Linked DNA regions of Homo sapiens: region 2 is linked to region 1. The links come from fine-mapping of genetic effects on gene expression. A gene starts in region 1. The other region holds a variant in brackets. All regions are shown on one strand. Distances are from middle to middle. Region 1 holds the start of CANT1 (calcium activated nucleotidase 1). Region 2 overlaps CANT1 (calcium activated nucleotidase 1).

Region 1 (5,373 bases):
TGGCATTTGTAAATCATCATGGTGCTGGTGGGAGTGTCTTTCAGCATGCTAATACATTATAATTAGGGTATAATTAGCAGCAAGGACAGCCAGAGGTCACTTTCATTGCCATCCTGGATTTGGAGGGTTTTGACCAGCTTCTTTACTGCATCCTGTTTCATCAGCAGGGTCTCTGTGACCCGTATCTTGTAACCTCCTATCTCATCCTGTGACTAAGAATGCCTAATTTCCTGGGAATGCAGCCCAGCAGGTCTCATTTACCCAGCCCTTATTCAAGATGGTGTTGCTCTGGTTCGAAGGCCTCTGAGAGAGCCACTGGATCTCTCAATTATTGCATACAGTTTTATTTCATTTTATAAAGGTTAAAATAGACAGAATTAAACAATATATTGTTTAGGGATACATACCTATGTGCTAAAATTATAAAGTAAGGCAACAGAATGATTAACACAACATTCAGTATTGTGGCTACCACCTCTTGGGGGTAGCAGGGAGTACAGAACAGGAAGAACCTGGAGAGTTTTAAAGATGCAGGAATAATGTGTTATTTCTTAAGCTGGAAGGCACATGTGGATCTTTTAGAAAATAAAAGATTCAAATATAATTGTCACATGCGTCCATGTGAAGAGATTCCACCAACGGGCCTTGTGTGAGCAACAAGACTGTTTATTTCACCTGGGTGCAAGTGGGCGGAGTCCGAGAAAGGAGTCAGCAAAGAGTAGTGGGATTATCATTAGTTCTTATAGGTTTGGGATAGGTGGTGGAGTTAGGAGCAATTTTTTGTGGGCAGGGGGTGGATCTCACAAAGTACATTCTCAAGGGTGGGAAAAATATTACAAAGTACCTTCTTAAGGGTGAGGGAATATCACGAAGTACATTATCCTAAGGGTGGGGAGGGTGTATTGTCATAAGGTCAATTGATCAGTGAGGGTGGGGCAGGAACAGATCACAATGGTGGAATGTCATCTTTTGTGGTTCTTCAGTTGCTTCAGGCCATCTGGATGTATATGTGCAGGTCACAGGGGATATGATGGCTTAGCTTGGGCTCAGAGGCCTGACAATAATGAGTATTATGTGAGACATGGTTGGGACTCAGTTTAGCATGACAAGAAACATTAATGAATTCAAGAAAGGTTTGTCTCCTCTCCAAAATCAAAAACCAAAAGTGCATAACAGTGTTTAGCACATTTCTATTTAGTTAAAGGTAATTTAAGATACGTGTTTATGACTTGTTTGGATACCATATAACATCTAGTGATCGCCTCTGGGCAGGGAATACAGAACGGCAATGGGAGGCTTATTTTTCATTGCGTACCATTTATATAATTTGAATTCCTCCTCTTGTGTATCTTTTACTGAACGGAAGGTTTTGAGAGAGCTGGGGGAAGTAGCTGGTATCAAGCAGGAAAGCTGAAGGTGCAGATGGGCAGGGGGCTGGTGCACCCTTCTGCCAAGCTCTCCTGCCAGAGGCTCCACGGCCACCAGGCCTTTCTCAGAACTTTGGGATGGAGGAGGGCGGGGCCGGGGAAGCCTTTTAACAGAGTGCCCTAAAATATCTCGGGGGCTAGGGCTACGGAGGGGAAAGGAGAAATCAGAGACCCTTGTTTGGCAGGTTTGTCAACTGCAGATTTTTTGCAGGGAAACACCCCACCGTCCCCACCCCAGGACACTACAGCCTTAGACCTCCCTGATCCTGGCTTTGGCAACTGGTCAGCAGCACTCTGGAGGCGGCTGTTTTGAAGGGCCAAGGAGAGGGGCTGCCTGAGAATGAGGATGGCAGAAAGGGGCCCACGGTTTTCCGCCTCCCAAGACTACGAGGGTCGGGAGGCCCATGTAAGGGGGCCCTCGCTCGGAGAATGAGAACTTCCCTCCCTAGTAGCCTTCACCCCCCTCAATGCCTCCCACCCCAAAAGATCTGCTGGGCCCACGTTCCAGCGCAACGCGGTGGAAGACGGCCCTCATGTGCCAGTGCGGACCCTCGCGCCCCTCCAGCCTGCAGCCAGCCGGCCGCTCCTCCAGCGCGCAGGCGCAGGACGGAAAAAAAAAACACAAAAAAACAACAAAAAAAAAACCCAAAAAAACACAAACCACAGCTCCCAGCAGCCCTCGCGCCGTCCGCGCGCAGCCGCAGAGCAGAGGCTGCCGGGAACGCGGGCCCAGAGGCGGGGCGAGCGCGCGCGGGGCGGAAGTCGGCCACCTTCCTCCGTCCCGGCCGTTAGCCCAGCCAAGCCCAGCCAAGCCCAGCCAAGCCCCGCCGATCGCGGGCACCGGAGCCAGCCCCGCAGCGGGTGAGTGACTGCGCCCGCGGCCGCCGGCGCCCTGCCCCAGCCACGGGCCCGGACCCCCGTCCCGGAGCCTGCCGCCGCCCTCCGACCCTGCCGCGTCCCGCCCCCTGACCCGTCAGGCCCCCTTCCCGTCCCACCCGTGCGGGATCTCTGCCCCCTGACTCGCAGACTGGGCTGGGACTCTGCCCTCTGACCTGTGGGAAAGTCCCCTTCTTCCGACAGGCGGTGGACACCACCCCCTCTGACTTTTGGGACACCTCATCCCTGGGACTAGCGTGGGGACCATTACCCTCTGGTTAGTGTGGGCACCCCTCCTCTCTAATTAGTGTGGGGACCATTCCCCTCTGATTAGTGTGGGCACCTCCCCCCTCTGATTATGTGACTCCTCCCCGCTCTGATTAGTGTGGGACACCCCCCTTCTAATTAGTTTGGGGACCATCCCCCTCTGATTACTGTGGGGCACCTCCCCGCTCTGATTAGTGTGGGGACCACCCCCCTCTGATTCATGTGGGGCACCTCCCCCTCTGGTTAGTGTGGGGACCATCCCCCTCTGATTAGTGTGGGACGCCTCCCCGCTCTGGCTAGTGTGGGGCACCCCTCCTGGGAATGACCCCCTCCCACCACCTTCTGACTTCAAATACCCCTCCTCTGGTCTATGCAGGGTCTCCTTGGACTGATAAGGGAATTTTCTCCCTCTGACTGGCACTTGGTCAAACCTGTAACAGGCCAACCTTCCCCACCCCATCCCAGTCCTTGCTCTCCCTGCCCTCATCCAATTTGGAGCCTTCCTCCAGGCACACAGCTCACTCTCATCTTCCTGCATGCAAATGATTCGCCCTCCCCACCATACCTGTCTCACACCCCTACTGCCATCCGGTCTGGATTCTCTCATCCTTGGAGACTGGTACCTCCTTGCCAGTCCATGTTGCCTGGTGCCTTTGCTTCTCCCTCCGAATGGTCTTTCCCTTGCCCTCTGTGTACCCTAGGCTTGGCACAGAGCACCTGTGACCACTCTTCCATCAGCAGACACATCTCTCTCCCAAACACCTTTCCCCCTTAGTGACCCCTGGAAAAGCCGTCTCTTAGTGTCCCAGCTCCATTTCTTATTTTATTCTTGAGGTTGTATGCCCTATGGCCTTTCCTACCACATTTTCAACAAAGCAGAGGTTTGGAAATGTGAGGCTCTTGGTGTCAAGTGAATCCGGCTAGCTCTCCAGTGTAAGGGCCCAAACTTGAAACAAGTGTCAGGTCGTAGAAGGCTCCTAAAAGGAAGCGGGTGCCGCAGCCCTTCAGGATCCGCTATCTCCCAGCTCTTCCTCCCTCTCCCTCTGAGGAGCTTTGCTGAGAAAGGTCCCTCCAGGCCTGGACCACAGACCCTCCCTGCAGCCCCACCGCAGGCCTCTCAGCAGGACAGTCTGGCTGGAGCCTGTGGAACGGCAGTGGGGCTCCTCCCAGGTGCTCCTCCCTGCTGGCCTCAATGAGCCCTCTATCCTAGCACACGCCCCTGCTGAAAGGCACACTGAAGGAGCCAACCCTCTCCCCTCTGGACGTGGCAAGGGTTTCCTGTCGGGGCAGCCCCAGGCATCTTCACGGCCAGGACTCAGGTGAAGCATGGATTTGTCCAGGCACTGTCATGAGGCCACCGCAGCAGTGTGGGGACCAACTTCTAGTGTCACTTTTTCATGTCCAAATTAACGTGATCACAAAAGAGAATGACATGTCACAAGGTGGTAGAGGGAACCCTCCACTCGCAGCGGGATAGGACCCCTGGACCCTGGGACACCTCGCTGGAGGGGCACATCTGAGGCTTGACGCTTCTGATTGCCAGAGGTCTCCTTTCTTCCCCTTAGGCTATAACCATATTTTCCTAGCCCATGGCAGCTTAGTAAATGTGTTGGTGTAAAAGCTCTTGGTACTCCAGAACGTTTTCACTCACCCGTCACTGTGCACCTGGTCTGCAGGACCCCCCTGAGCTGCAGAGTACGTGAGGAGACCCAGGGTGTGGTAGCAGCAGTTCTCCTGGCCCTGTGGGTGTTTTTACCCTGCCACCTGGATGTGGCTTTCGAGGTGTGTGTGCCTGTGCAGGCTCCCCCAAGTACATATGGCCCGTCCTCGGAGTCTCGGTACTTTCTGGCAACCGTATAGGTAGATAGGTAGATGTATAAATGCTGTAGTGTTTTCTCTTTCAAAAACAGAAGATCTGAGACTTGGAACTATTGTCCAGGTCCTGAAATGGGTCAGTACTATCACAAGGAGGTCATTTTTCTATTGTTTGTTGAATGGTACCAGGGATGCCAAGGACACACAGCATTCATTCTTTTCACTCAGTGCACTCTGAACTATCGAGATTTCCTGGAAAGCTCTTATGAAATGCCAATATCAAGGGAATTAGAAACTTTTATATTAATTCTTAAGAATGTTCATGTTGATTTTCCTTTTACTTTAATCAAGATGGTTAATTAGGAAAAAATCATCCTGGCAGTAGAGAAGTCTGTTTGGGGAGACGTTCTGTTTTTTGTTTTGGACCCTGCTCGTCTTTGTCATGCGTGCAGTGGTCATGTGGAGCGCCTGGTTCCCAGGCAGGACGCTGCTCCCCGCGTTCCTCTGGGATGGTTTTATGGGAAGTGAAGAAGGCGTTGAAGTCTGGCTTAAGACTTAAGACAGTGCGTGATGCCACCATGTGGGAGTGGGGCAGAGGTGAGACTGGGACCCCCCAGAATGGCTCTGAGGGTGTTGCCGGGTTGAGTGAAAGTCCTGGCGATTCGGCCTTTGTGTCCCGGGAGCCGAGCCTGGAGGAAAGCGTGAGGAGAGAAGGTGGCAGTAAGCAGGTGGGCTCGTGCAGGTGCCACCGCGGTGTGGAAGGCAGCCCTGATCCAGGTCCATGGGGCGATGATCCCATCCCGTTATTTTCACACACTCTGGAAAAGGACACCTTCCCAGATGTGTGGTGCCATTTGGAATGTGCCTTTCAACTGAGAAGGTCGCCTTTTGGCTAAAATTCCTCCAGGTGTAACATCGATGATACAAATTAAGCAGACACAGCCTCTTTACAAGGCAGTAACTGCAAACCGTAGAGGGTTCTGAAGCT
Region 2 (5,298 bases), 19 kb after region 1:
GTACTCCAGGGTGAAGGCAGAGTGGGATTTGAGACCCAGGTTAGGCACGACCCAGGCTGAGAAGGGACGTTTCCATCATTCACAGTGCCCTCCCCACAGCACTACCTCACCCCGACCCCCACCCTCACTCCTACCCCACCCCGCGATCGTCAGGGGTGCCACGGTGGGCCGGAGGGTGCCGGCTCTGGCTGTCCCTGTGCCGGTCCCTCACAAACCTCTCCCCCTTTGAAACTCAAGCACAGCTGCGAGGAGGGCAGCGAGGAGGGACCCCTCTCTCATGGTTGTCTCTTTCCCCCGCTATGTCATAGGTAGTGGAGGAAGCGAAGGAAGTGAACGCTGAATGTGACGCATTTCTGAAGAGCTCAGCTGTCACCGGGCATAGCCTGGAAGCCCCAAGTCTGTTCTGACTTTGCCTGGCTGTCTCCTTGACCCGCCTCCTAGATCATTGTCCTTGATGTCCAGGCTGGGTCATTTAAAATAGAGATGCAATCAGGAAGGTTGGGGGACTTGGGACTGTGGCTGAATTGAGACCTTGCTGATGTATTCATGTCAGCACCTGAGTCACAGCCCAGGTGCCCGGAAGCAGCCTCTTCGCATAGGCAGTGATTTGCGATTACTTTAAAGCTCACCTTTTTTCTTCCCCTCTCTGTTCGCTGCTGTCAGCATAATGATTGTGTTCCTTCCCTATGGGATCCATCTGTTTTGTAAACAATAAAGCGTCTGAGGGAGTGTAGTTTTCTGTCTCCCGGTCTGTGCTGACTGTTTGCAGAGGCCTGGCCACGAGAGCGCCTGCGCAGGATGCTGGGCATGCGCACGGGAGTCGCCCGCCAGGGCATCCCATCTGGAAACTGCGTCCTCCAGTCCGCCTTGTCCCACTATCTCAAGGCGCTCCAAGAGCACGAGCGCTGTGGTCAGAAAGGTGGGGTCTGAAGCCACTGCAAGCCCGATCCTGGCTCTGTCCCCATCCAGCTGCATGTCCTTAGGCAAATGACCTAACTTTCCTGTGCTTCAGTGTCCTCGTCTGCAAAAGGATGCTCATCGCAGAGCTCATCCCGGGGCTGCAGTGAACGGTAAGTGACTGGGTACGCGCAAGGGGCTTAGAACATCACCTGACGTGTGCTGGGCACCCACGTGCCCGTTTTGTTGCTGCTCATCCCTGGGGAGCCATCTGGATGACTTGGTAAGGAGGCGCTCAGGTGAGAGGTCAGGGCTGAGCTGGTGTCTTTAGTGTGTCAGTGAGTCCACAGGAACAGACGAGGTCGCTCCAAGTGACGCATGGAAGAATCCCCATCACTGAAACCACAGGCGCCAGGGAGGCAGGCACTGGCCAAGAAAGACCTCAACTAGAGACAGGACAGGGGCGGCCAGAGAGGGACAGAAAACCGGGAGAGCGGAATCAGAAAGGGCAATTGCACCCACATCGACCCCTTACCCTTCAGACCCACTCTCCTTCCCCGCCTCCTCCGGGTCCCAGACCCAGTGAACCTCCTCAGTGCCCTCTGGGATGGCCCCTGGGGAGTCCCTGACTCTCTCTGGCACTCGCCTCTCAAGGCAGCCCCCTGGTGCCACTCCCAGTGTCTGGGCTGAGTCCCCTCCCCTGGTCTCTTCTGGCCTGGGAGTGTGACATGGGAGTGACAGCTCCACTGTTAGCAGCTCCAGATGCTACAGCGGCCCCTCGTGCCGCCCGCACGCCCTGCTGTCTCATCCGTGGTAAATGGTCCCTTCACTGAAGCCTCCTTAGATGATCTTCATTCGGGTGTCGTCTTTTCCTGCTGGGAGCCTGACCAAGACAGCGCTGCAGGGAGGCGGCCTCTGCAGAAGGACCAGCGCGGCAGCGGGGTCCCCAGAGAGACTCCATGACTGAGCAGCAAGGAGAACTGGGCGTTCTCGGCGAGGATCCACAGAACAACAGTTCCAGAAAAAGCCAGGGCGCATCGGGCCGCGGCGGGTTGGGATAAGGAACCGCATGTAAGCTCTTGACCATCTGTTTAAGAAGCTGTGACATGCGGGACTCGTGGGGCAGTGACTGCCGGCTCCACACTCATGGGTCCGGCACACAGCTCATCTGCAAATGGAAGACTCTCCAGTCACCTCAACTGGACAAAAAAACGAGATTCAGTTTCTTTCATTCCACGTGTTAATCCTGTATTCCAGTATACTTTTTTTCTTTTCTTTTTTTTATTTTGGGGGGATGGAGTCTTGCTCTGTCTCCCAGGCTGAAGTGCAGGGACACGATCTTGGCTCACTGTAACCTCCATCTCCCAGGTTCAAGCAATTCTTCTGCCTCAGCCTCCCAAGTAGCTGGGATTACAGGCGTGCGCCACCACGCCCGGCTAATTTTTGTGTTTTTAGTAGAGATGGGGTTTCTCCATATTGGCCAGGCTGGTCTCAAACTCCTGATCTCAAGTGATCCATCCGCCTTGACCTCCCAAAGCGTTGGGATTACAGGCGTGAGCCACTGCACCCAGCCATGGTACACTATTTTATTTTATTTTATTATTTTATTTTATTTTATTTATTTTATTTTATTTTATTTATTTTATTTTATTTATTTTATTTTATTTTATTTTAAGACGGAGTCTCGCTCTTTCGCCCAGGCCAGACTGCAGTGGCACTATCTCGGCTCACTGCAAGCTCCGCCTCCCGGGTTCACGCCATTCTCCTGCCTCAGCCTCACGAGTAGCTGGGACTACAGGCTCCCGCCACCGTGCCCGGCAAATTTTTTGTATTTTTAGTAGAGACGGGGTTTCACCATGTTAGCCAGTTTGGTCTCGATCTCCTGACCTTGTGATCTGCCCGCCTCGGCCTCCCAAAGTGCTGGGATTACAGGTGTGAGCCACCGCGCCCGGCCCACGGTACACTTTAAATTGATAAATCTCAAGGTAAGTTATCCCTTCATGCTGTTAAAAGAGTTAAAGCAAAAATAAAATACCGTCACACTGTGAAAACCCCTGGCCCAGATGGCTTCACTTTTGAATTGTACCAAACATGTAAGGGAGAAATAATA[C/T]GAAAGCAACACAAAATCTTCCATGATTCTGGGAGTTGGGAAACTTTTCCAACTCATTTTATGAGGGCACCACTATACTGATACCAAAACCAGAAAAATACATTACAAAAAAAAAAAATACAGACCAGTATCCCTCATGAACATAGATGTAAAAATCCTGGCCAGGAGCAGTGGCTCACGCCTGTAATCCCAGCACTTTGGGAGGCCGAGGCGGGTAGATCACGAGGTCAGGAGATTGAGAGCATCCTGGCTAACACAGTGAAACCCCATCTCTACTAAAAAATACAAAAAAGTTAGCCGGGCACAGTGGCGGGCACCTGTAGTCCCAGCTACTCGGGAGGCTGAGGCAGGAGAATGGCATGAACCCAGGAGGCAGAGCTTACAGTGAGTCGAGATCGCGCCACTGCACTCCAGCCTGGGTGACAGAGCGAGACTCCGTCTCAAAAAAAAAAAATAAATAAAAATAAAAAATAAAAAAAGAATCCTTAGCACAGATTAGCAAGCCAAATTCAGCAATAATCAAAAATTAGAATGTTACCGGAAAGGGGTCTGATTCAGGTCACCAAGAGAGGGTTCTTGGAGCTCACACAAGAAATAATTCTGGGCACGTCCATAGAGTAAAGTGACAGCAAGTTTATTAAGAAAGTAGGCCAGGTGCGGTGGCTCACGCCTGTAATCCCAACACTTTGGGAGGCTGAGGCAGGCAAATCACGAGATCAGGAGTTGGAGACCAGCCTGACCACATGGTGAAACCCCATCTCTACTAAAAATATAAAAATCAGCTGGGCGTGGCGGTGCATGTCTGTAATCCCAGCTACTCAGGAGGCTGAGGCAGGAGAATCGCTTGAACCTGGGAGATGGAGGTTACAGTGAGCCGAGATCGCGCCACTGCACTCCAGCCTGTGCGATGGAGTGAGACTCCATCTCAAAAAAAAAAGTAAAGGAATAAAGAATAGCAACTCTAAAGGCAGAGTAGCTCCAGGGCTGCTGACTGTCCCTTTTTATGGTTATTTCTTGAGGATATGCTAAACAAGGGGTGGATTCTTCATGCCTCCCGTTTTTAGACCATAGAGGGTAACTTCCTCATGTTGCCATGGCATTTATCATGGTGCTTGCAGGAGCATAGCAGTGAGGACAGCCAGAGGTCACTCTCATCGCCGCTTGATTTTGGTGGGTTTTAGCCGGCTTTACTGCAGCCTGTTTTGTTGTTGTTGTTGTTTTTGAGATGGAGTCTCATTCTGTTGCCCAGGCTGGAGTGCAGTGGCACAATCTCAGCGCACTGCATCCTCCGACTCCCAGGTTCAAGCGATTCTCCTGCCTCAGCCTCCCGAGTAGCTGGGATTACAGTCGTGCGCCACAACACCCTGCTAATTTGTATATTTTTAGTAGAGATGGGGTTTCACCATGTTGGCCAGGCTGGTCTCAAACTCCTGACTTCGCGATTCGCCTGCCTCGGCCTCCCAAAGTGCTGGGATTACAGGTGTGAGCCACTGCGCCCGGCCAGCCTGTTTTATCAGCAAGGTATGACCTGTATCTTGTGCCAACCTTCTGTCTCCAGTGACTAAGAATGCCTTAACCTCCTGGGAATGCAGCCCAGCAGGTCTCAGCCGTAATTTACCCAGACCTGGTTCAAGATGGAGTGGCTCTGGTTCAAACGTCTCTGACAAGAATACTTCACGATAGGTGTGGTTTATTCTAGGAATACAGGGTTAGTTCAGTATTCTGAAATCAATCAATGAAATTCATATGAAGACTAAAAAGGGGCAGGGTGTGGTGGCTCATGCCTGTAATCCCAGCACTTTGGGAGGCTGAGGTGGGCATTTGAGGTCAGGAGTTCGAGACCAGCCTGGCCAACATGGTGAAACCCCGTCTCTACTAAAAACACGAAAAATTAGCTGGGGGTGGTGGGGCGCACCTATAGTCCCAGCTACTTGGGAGGCTGAGGCAGGAGAATCGCTTGAACCTGAGAGGCGGAGGTTGCAGTGAACCGACATCATCCCATTGCTCTCCAGCCTGGGCGACAGAGCGAGACTCCATCTCAAAAAAAAAAAAAAAAAAAAAAAAGACTAAAAAGGGGGAAAAGCATGATAATCTCAAAAGATAGAGAAAAAGCATTTGACAGAATCTAACAGCCATTCACCCAATCCAATTCTAAACAAAAAGCCAAAAAACCCGTTAGGGAACATCCTTAACCCGATGAAGGGCTCCGGTGAGAAGTCCACAGCTAAGCTCCTACTTCACGGTCAGACACTGAATGCCTTCCCCCTGAGGAACAACGCAAGAGTGTCTGC

Evidence for each region. PIP is the estimated chance that this variant, and not a neighbour inherited with it, causes the effect.
Region 2: its variant is fine-mapped to the expression of CANT1 in T cells (TOPMed, PIP 0.93).

What each region holds. Positions count from the first base shown.
Region 1 is chr17:79,006,579-79,011,951 of GRCh38, reverse strand. CANT1 (calcium activated nucleotidase 1) reads left to right here and starts at 2,188. Exons shown (of 5, transcript NM_001159773.2): 1 at 2,188-2,288. RefSeq lists an enhancer at 1,799-1,848 and a silencer at 2,089-2,468.
Region 2 is chr17:78,987,151-78,992,448 of GRCh38, reverse strand. It overlaps CANT1 (calcium activated nucleotidase 1), which reads left to right. Exons shown (of 5, transcript NM_001159773.2): 5 at 1-733. Among named protein-coding and RNA genes, the nearest start is that of LGALS3BP, 9.9 kb to the right of the region's middle. The variant C/T (reference allele first, on the strand shown) is at 3,008.